Linked DNA regions of Homo sapiens: region 2 is linked to region 1. The links come from fine-mapping of genetic effects on gene expression. A gene starts in region 1. The other region holds a variant in brackets. All regions are shown on one strand. Distances are between the middles of the regions.

Region 1 (4,384 bases):
TTGCCTGTTGCCCCCCAACCCAGGCTGGGACAGTGAGGCACACACAGGTTGGGCTGGAACATTTATTTTACACGGAGCCGGGGGAGTGGGGGCCAGGGGGCAGGGGCAGCAGCCTTCCCGGGCAGGCCTCCCCCGGCTGCGGCAGCTGCACCTACTGGATCAGCTTGAAGGACTCCCCCGTCATCATGGCCACAAACTCTGGGAACAGAGGGGCAGGTCAGCAGCTTGCCCCGGCCCAGCCAACGGCTCCCAGGGCTCCAGGCCACTCACCCTCATAGTCGATGGTCCTGTCCCCATCCTTGTCGGCCTCCTTCATCATCTGCTCCGCCTCCACCTCGTTGAGGGGCTCCCCTGCGTTCATTAGCACGTACCTACGGGGCCTGGCGCTGAGCCACTCCATCGGCCCTGCCCGTGCCCGCCCACCACCCGCCCCCAACCCGGGCCCTACTTGAGTGTGTTCCAGTCAATGTAGCCCTTGCCCTCTTTGTCAAAGACACGGAATGCCGCCCTCAGCTCGCTCTCCTGGTTCTGGGCCTTCTCATGGTAAACTCCCATTAGTGCCAGGAAACCATCGCAGTTGAAGAACCCTTTGTCTGCAAGGGGCACAGCTGGGGCTCAAGGGATGGGGCACAGCACTCCCCATGGGCTTTGCCTCTTCCCCCCGTAGGCACTGACACCTGACCCAGGGCCCCCCCGAGGCTGCCCACCCCACTCCAGCCATGAGCTCACTGTCTCTGTCCACATCCTTGGCCATTGAGGCCAGCTCACTCTTGGTGGGGTTGATACCCAGCAGGCTCATGAGCCACTCCAGCTCCCCCGTCTTCACCTCCCCGTTGCCCTCTTCGTCGAACATCTCAAAGACTCCCTTGTACTCCTTGATCTGCTCAGCCGACAGGCGCTCTGTCTGCAGGGGACACCCGCACCGGCCTGACCAGGAGCCCCTTCTGCCCCTGTGTCCAGGGAAGGGTCAGAGGTACCCCCTGCACCCATTCCTCCATTGGCAGCCTTTCAAGGTGAGTGGTAAGAGAGGAGGCCCCCAGCGGAGAGCAGGCTTCCAGGACAAGGGGTCACACGCCAGGGGTTTGCAGGGCCAGCAGGGCTCTGCCAGGCAGCTAACAGGGGCAAGGGCCAGACAGGCAGGAGCCAGCGTGCGAGGGAACAGCAGCAGCTGCAGGGCCAGGCGGGCCAGGCAGCGGCCCTGGAGCCTGGCAATGGACACCAGGTGAGGCAGGTGAAGGAAGCCGAGAGCAGGGTGGGGAGGAGCCCAGCCCTGGCCCGGGAAAGGCTTCCAGCCCAGGATTGGGATACAGCCCAGGAAGCAGAACCCTGGGCTCCAGCCTGTGTGGCATTCCGGAGGGAGAGTCCAGCACCGGGCCACACCTGCCTGCCACCACTGCTGCTGCCCATCTGGGAGCCAGCTTTCAGAAAGGGCTGCTCCACCCTGGCCCCGGAACAAGGGCTGTGTTGGTGGCAGCAGGGCTTGGCCCCCTCTTCTACCTCAGCCCCTTCCTGCCCAGGCTCCGTGGCAGGTCATTGCACCTCCAGGTTCCAGCTCAACCTACCCAGCCAGCCCACCAGAGACTCCATCGGGCACAGAGAGCAGCCTTACCATGTCGGTGGTTGTCTGACAGGATTCTGCAGGGTGGTGACACCAGGGCTGCTGTGGGCAGAGTGCTGGGGCAGTGGTGGCAGCTGAGTTTTAGCTGGGCCTGGCTGCCTGGGGTCCCCGGGGTCCAGATTCCAAGAGCCTTTTATGGGTGGGAAATCCTGCCGGCCCTATTTTGGGACAGGCTCTCGGCCTTATCCACAGGGCCCCTTCCCGGCCCGCTTTGGCCTGGGCTTCCCCTGACCCTGAAGATGGGCACCGAAGGCTAAGTGCGGGGGCCAGGAAAGGGCTGAGACATGGCGGGACCCTCACACACGCTGTTCCCCGTGCTGTTCCCTCTTCACTGGACCAAGCTCCAAGTCTACCTTCCCAGAGGTGCGGCCCTCCAGCAGGTCTTCATGGGACCCTGGTCCCATGCTGTCATCACTTACCAGTGAGATTTCTTGTTGAAGACCCATCCTGGCCAGCTGGTGCTCAGTGGCTCAGAGCCTGGCCACCCTCCCATCCTGGTGGACTCAACATTGGCCCCGTGCCAGCATGTCACAAACTCTCAGGACAGGTCGAATGAACAAATGCATGAGGCACCGCTTGACCATCTTGTACAGGAGGGGCTGAGGGTCCACCATTCAGGGAGGAGACAGCAGGACATGGGCTGGGGGTGAAGGGGGAAAGGGAGCAAAACAGGGCCTGGGGGCTGGGCTGCCCGCTGGAAGCCAGGCACAGTTGGGGGCTATTTTGGGGTTTCTCAGGGAAACCTGATCTCCCTTCCACTCAGAACAGCAAAGCTGGCTCCCGAGGGGGCCTGGTGCCCAGGCTGGTCCGTATCAACATGCCACCGTGGAGCACACGCCTGCACACGTGTGTTCCCTCCTCAGACCCGCACTGAGCCCTCCCTGTCTGGGTCTAATTACCCACCAGACTCCCAAAGCCAGGGTCCAGCTCCTCCCTGCCCCACCCAGGCAAGAGTGTGAGGATTGCAGTGGCAGGTCAGGGCCCTCAGGGTCACACTCACACCTGCCCCCCGACTGGCCCCTTGATGGCATGAAGAGTCTGAGCAGGTGGGGCACTCAGTGTCCCCCGCCAGCCCAACCCTCTGCCTGCCAGCAAACCTGCAGCTACAGGATGGCTCCCGCTGAAACCCAGGCCAGCTGCTGAGACTGCAAGATTGACGCTGACGAGGGCAGGCCAATGGCCCAGGGCACCTCCAGCCAAACGGGAGCCGGGGCTGGAGGGAAGCGGCCCTGGGTCTGGTGGGGCCAAGGGAGGCCCTGACCTTCATCCTGGCTGCTCCCTGGCCTCAGCTTTCCCCTGGGCTGGGGCAGGGAACAATTCACGCACTGAGCACCTTCCCCCAGGGGCATAGAATGGAGGGAGCCGCAGCACCCAGGCCAGGGCCCATCCTGGGTTCTGGCTCAGGGTCTCCAGGTACAGGCCAGCTGGGTACAGAGACACAGAGAACTGCACTGGCCTCGTGGCCCTGGACAAGTCCCCACCCCAACAACTCTCACAGCCAGTGGACAGCAGGCTCTGCCTCCTCCGTTCCCAGGCTTCCAGCGTCTGACATTCCTGGGCCACAGCCCTGAAGGTTCCAGACATCCTGATGGGCTTACGAGTGAAACTCAAAGCTGTGACCCCTGGAGCCCAACTTAAAGCAGAGGGCACACCCCCCGCCCCGCCCGTAGGAAGGGGCAACATGGCCACAACCACCATCAACCTCTCTCCTCTCCATCTAGGCTTCTACCCATATCCAAGACCCAGTACAAGCAGCAGAACAGGTCCTCGCCCTCTAACCCTCTCTCCTCATGCTGACCAGCCTCTGTGTGGCCTTCGGACATACCCCGTATCTCTAGGACCTGAGACTCATCCAATCTTTATTTTCCTTCTTGTGTCTCTTCTGATCACCGAAGGGCTATTCTCCATAAGAAAACAGAAAAAGAGGCTGGGCACGGTGGCTCACGCCTGTAATCCCAGCACTTTGGGAGGCTGAGGCGGGCAGATCACGAGGTCAGGAGATCGAGACCATCCTGGCTAACACAGTGAAACCCCGACTGTACTAAAAAAAATACAAAAAAATTAGCCAGGCGTGGTGGTAGACACCTGTAGTCCCAGCTTCTCCGGAGGCTGAGGCAGGAGAATGGCGTGAACCCAGGAGGCAGACCTTGCAGTGAGGCGAGATCGCGCCACTGCACTCCAGCCTGGGCAACAGAGCGAGACTCCATCTCAAAAAAAAAAAAGAAAAGAAAAGAAAACAGAAAAAGAGAAAAACCCTGTAACAATTAGAATGCTGCCTCAGCCACGTTCAGGTGCAAGTGCAGTTGTGTTCATGGCCGTACCCAGTTATGCAGCAGATCTCTAGAACCTTTCACCTTGCAAAACGGACCCCCGCCCCCATTAAACAGCATCTGCCCTCTTCCACCACCCCCCGCCCCCCAGCCTATGGCAATCACTATTCTACTTTCTGTTTTTAAGAATTCGACTCCGGGGGCCGGGTGTGGTGGCTCACGCCTGTAATCCCAGCACTTTGGGAGGCCGAGGTGGGTGGATCACAAGGTCAGGAGTTCAAGACCAGCCTGGCCAAGATGGTTACACCCTGTTTCTACTAAAAAAAATAAAAAAATAAAAAAATTAGCCGGGCGTGGTGGCAGGTGCCTGTAATCCCAGCTACTCAGGAGGCTGAGGCAGAGAATTGCTTGAACCTGGGAGGTGGAGGATGCAGTGAGCCGAGATTGCGCCACTGCACCCCAGCCCGGGTGACAGAGTGAGACTCCATCTCCAAAA
Region 2 (4,384 bases), 110 kb after region 1:
TGGGTTCAAGCGATTCTCCTGCCTCAGCCTCCCAAGTAGCTGGGACCACAGGTGTCCGCCACCACGCCCAGCTAATTTTTGTATTTTTAGTAGAGGCGGGGTTTTGCTGTATTGGCCAGGCTGGTCTTGAACTCCTGACATTGTGATCCGCCTGCCTTAGCCTCCCAAAGTGCTGGGATTATAGGCGTGAGCCGCTGCGCCCGGCCTTATGAATCATTAAATGAGACTGGTTCAAATAAAAGTCACAGTAATGGCCAGAAGTTTTCTGAAAATGAAACTAAAAACAAGCCTGATATGCCTTTACCAGTAAGAAACCTGTGGATTTGCGCTGGACATGGTGGCTCATGCCTGTAACTGCAACACTCTGGGAGGCCAAGGTAGGAGGATAGCTTGGAGCCAGGGGTTCGAGACCAGCTGGGGCAACAAAGCTAGACCCCTTCTCTACAAAAAATGAAAAACAGCCACGCACAGTGGCACACAACTATGGTCCCAGCTCCTCAGGAGGATGGCTCAAGCCTGGGTGGTTGAGGCTGCAGGGAGCTATGATTGCACCACTGCACTCCAGGCTGGGCGAAAGCGAGACCCTGTCTCTGCAAATGAGGCATAATAGAGCCCTGTGGCCGTAAGTGCTAGGTAGTCTATTATTTCACCAAGATTTTATTTACTTGTGACACTAATTCATCATGAAAGGCATACATTTGCTGAAAGAGGATGTACTATTCTAATATTTTACCTCTCTGGCTGTATTATTTGTTCTCAGACATTTTATGCCCCAGTACTTTTTGATAACACTCCGCCCACTTCACATGCAGCCAAAGAAATCAGTTCATGGAGTCACTAGTACTACAGTTGACACCCATTAAGCAGTCTGTTAAATAAGTTAATTTTGGCCAGATTACAAGTTTAACCTTGTCCTTTGAAAGATAATGCTGCTGCTGTTGTTGATTTCTGTTCTCTGTTCTTTTCTGCCTTCTGCTTACTTTGGAGTTGCCTTCTTAATTTTCCAGCTACCTGAAGTAGATCTGTAGGCCACTGGTTTGCTTCCTTTTCAAATAGAATCACTTAAAGTTTTAAGTTTCCCTCTAAGCATGGCTTTAGCCACATCACACACATTTGTTTCATATTGTCTTTTTTTTTTTTTTTTAAGATGGAGTCCTGCTCTGTCACCCAGGCTGTAGTACAGTGGTGCAATCTCAGCTCACTGAAACCTCAACCCCCTGGGTTCAAGCGATTCTCCTGCCTCAGCCTCCCGAGTAGATTACAGGCGTGCACCACCACGCCTGGCCAATTTTTGTATTTTTAGTAGAGACGGGGTTTTGCCATGTTGGTCAGGCTGGTCTTGAACTCCTGACTGCAAGTGATCTGCCTGCCTCGGCCTCCCAAAGTGCTGGAATTACAGGCTTGAGCCACCACTCCCAGCCTATATTGTATTTTAATTATCATTCAATGTGAAATTTTTAATATCCTTGTGAGTGCTTATTTGACTTATAGGTTATTTAGATGTATAATTTTTACATATCTGAAGTTTTCTTAGTTATTGTTGATTTCTAATTAGATGTCATTGTGCTTAAAGACACACTTGGTATCATTTCAGTCCTTTGACATTTGAGGCTTGTTTTTAATGGAGCTGATGGTCTGTCATGGTGGCCGCGCTGTGTGCACATGGGAATGATATGTGTTTTTGTTGTATCTCGGCCTGATTTTCTACATACATGTTAATTAGAGCAAGATTTTTGGCATGTTCAAATATTCTGTGTCTTTCTATGAAATGCTCATGCAGGGCTGTTAAAATGATTATGGATTTTCTAACTTTCCTGTTAATTCTGTCAATCTGTGCTTCAGATATCTTGAGCTCTTTTAGTAGATGCCTTTACATTTGTTGTCTCTTTGTGATTAATTGACCCTGTGACCCTGCTCTCATGATGAACTGTTCTTTCTCACTCATAATGCTCTTTGTTGGGAACCGCTGCTTTTTCTGATACTAATGTAGTCAGTCCTGCCTTCATGGGGGTCCTTTCAGCTTAACTGTGTCTTTGAAAATAGTCTGTTACAGACCTCGCATCATTGTTGGGTCTTGGTTTTTTCTGCCCGCCTTTGGAATATGCTTTTGCACATTTATATTTCTTA[T/C]TGTAACTCTGCTACTTTGCCACCTTTTTGTCCCTTCATTTTTGTTTTTTGGTTGTTCCCTTCCTACCTTCCTTTGAGTTACTTGATTACAGGCATGAGCCACCACGCCTGGCCTGGGTTACTTGATTTTTTAAAGAAATCTATTTTACTTTGTCTGTGGGCTTTGTAGGTAAACCATTTTGCCTGATGTCTTAGTGGTGTCTTTAGGGATTATAGTGTACATTCCCAATGTCTCGCGGTCCTCTAGTTAACTTGGTCCTAGTTGATAGGAAACGTAAGGAACTCACAGCCACACGGGCCTGCTGTCTGCCCTTGCTCACTCTTGTGGTTTTCATATGCATCACACCTGTGTGTGTTATTAGCTCCATGATGCATTGTTGTATTCTTTACTTTAAACATTCTTAAGAAATTAGGGGTCTTATAATGTGAATAAATATGAAAAGCATGAAATAGGCTGGGCATGGTTGGCTCACGCCTGTAATCCCAGCACTTTGGGAGGCCGAGGCAAGCAGATCACCTGAGGCCAGGAGTTTGAGATCAGCCTAGCCAACATGACGAAACCCCGTGTCTACTAAAAATAAAAAAATTAGCCAAGCATGGTGGCATGCGCTTGTAGTCCCAGCTGCTCAGGAGGCTGAAGCAGGAGAATTACTTGAACTGAAGCGGAGGTTGCAGTGAGCTGAGATCACGCCACTGCACCTCCAGCCTGGGTAACAGAGTGAGACTCCGTCTCAAAGAGAAAAGAATGAAGTAAATCTACTCTGCCCTCCAGAGAGATCTTCCATGTCCAGTGCCCTTCCCGCTCTCCTGCAAAGGCGCCTTCTGCGGGCGTCCTTTCGGCCGGGAGCCCTACCCGGAACAAGTCATGGTTAATGCAGTTCTCAGGTCTGCTGCTAGCAAAGCACTTAGTGTTCATTTCTCTAAGATTTATATTTTGCCTTTATTCTTGAAGGGTATTTTTGCTGGATATCTAGAATTATGGGTTGACTCTTTTTTTAATTTATTTTTCTTTTTTTTTTTTTTTTTTAACAATCTAAAGATTTGGTTTTTAGCAGTTTGCACGTAGGTGCCTCGGTGTGATTTTCTTTGCATTTATTGCACTTTGGCATCTTGAATCTATAAATTTGTCTTTCACCAAATTTGGGAAGTTTTAGACCATGTCTTCAAATGCATCTTCTGTCCTTAGTCCCTGCCCCTCTGTGCTGCAATACACACGCATCTGTGCTGTCCCCGAGGCTCAGGGGGCTGGGGTTTGTTCATCACTTTCCCACTTCTTCAGATTTGTTCCTTTTTGTTGTTGTTAGCACCACTTACTTGCTTTTAACCTTTTTATTTCCATTCAAGTTCATGTACTTGTTACCTCTGATAAACTAAGGCTATCCAGCAGGTTCTTTATGTCAGATATTCCTTCTGCAGTTGTAGAGTTTCTATTGCTTTTATTTAGAAATTTTTTATTTTCCTGCTGAGATTCCCTGTCCTTGTATAATAGCATGTTTTATTTTGCATCCACAAGGAGAGTTTAATAGCTGCCTTTAGAGTTCTTGTCTGCTGATCCCAGCATCTCATCTTCCTGAGGTTGGTCCTTGTGGATCTCTCCTCTGGATTCTGAGTGACATTTTGCTATTTTTTTAGTACATGTAGTAATTTCAAATTGTATTCTGGACATTGTAAATGTTGTGTCATAGAGACTTTGTGTCCGGTTACATTCTCCAGAACTAACTGATGTTTAGTGTCATTGTATCAGGCAGTCTATCTCTGTCTTTCTTGTGTGGCAGCAGCAGAAACCTCTGTTCAGCTTTTCTGCGCTGGCTGGGCTGCATGCCTGTGCACTTCAGGTGTCGGATATCTGGTCAGCCGTGTGTGTAGTTTGGGACTCCCTTTCTGTGGCTTTCTTCTTTGTAGTTGTTATCCTTTCGCTTTCTGGCTGTGGTTGCCCAGTAATCTGTCTACTGGCTCTTGAAGACCTTGGCCACAGGTCTTGTGTGTGAGGCTGTAGCCCTGGGGTTGTCACAGACAGTCCCCTCCTCAGAGAAAGCTCCTTAAGAACAAACCATGTCCTGCCTTTCTTTTCTCCCAGGGGAGACTCCTCCAGTTTCTACCTGCTCCTGTTTTCATGCTTTCAGGTGTTTCGTTTTGTAGTTTGTGCAGTGCTTATAGTTGTTTCTGTGAGAAGGTAATGCCTACAGATAGGAGCCCCTGGCCATCGCTGGGAGTCCAGCCAGGCAGCTCACACTGACCCTGTAAACCACACAGCTCT

Alleles and levels. Alleles are on the strand shown, and positions count from the first base shown. SD is a standard deviation of normalised expression in the study named.
For the expression in liver of the gene that starts at base 2,085 in region 1, allele T in region 2 goes with a higher level than allele C (small effect, 0.28 SD a copy in GTEx).

What was found. PIP is the estimated chance that this variant, and not a neighbour inherited with it, causes the effect.
Region 2: its variant is the best candidate, but not a certain one, in a credible set for the expression of CALML6 in liver (GTEx, PIP 0.57).

The regions. Positions count from the first base shown.
Region 1 is chr1:1,912,961-1,917,344 of GRCh38, reverse strand. It overlaps CALML6 (calmodulin like 6), which reads right to left and starts at 2,085. Exons shown (of 6, transcript NM_138705.4): 1 at 2,038-2,085; 2 at 1,610-1,660; 3 at 730-904; 4 at 449-593; 5 at 271-371; 6 at 49-198. The coding sequence starts at 2,064. The coding sequence ends at 152. RefSeq lists an enhancer at 2,578-3,264.
Region 2 is chr1:1,799,524-1,803,907 of GRCh38, reverse strand. All of the region lies in intron 7 of GNB1 (G protein subunit beta 1), which reads left to right. Among named protein-coding and RNA genes, the nearest start is that of NADK, 23 kb to the right of the region's middle. RefSeq lists an enhancer at 4,277-4,326. The variant T/C (reference allele first, on the strand shown) is at 2,128.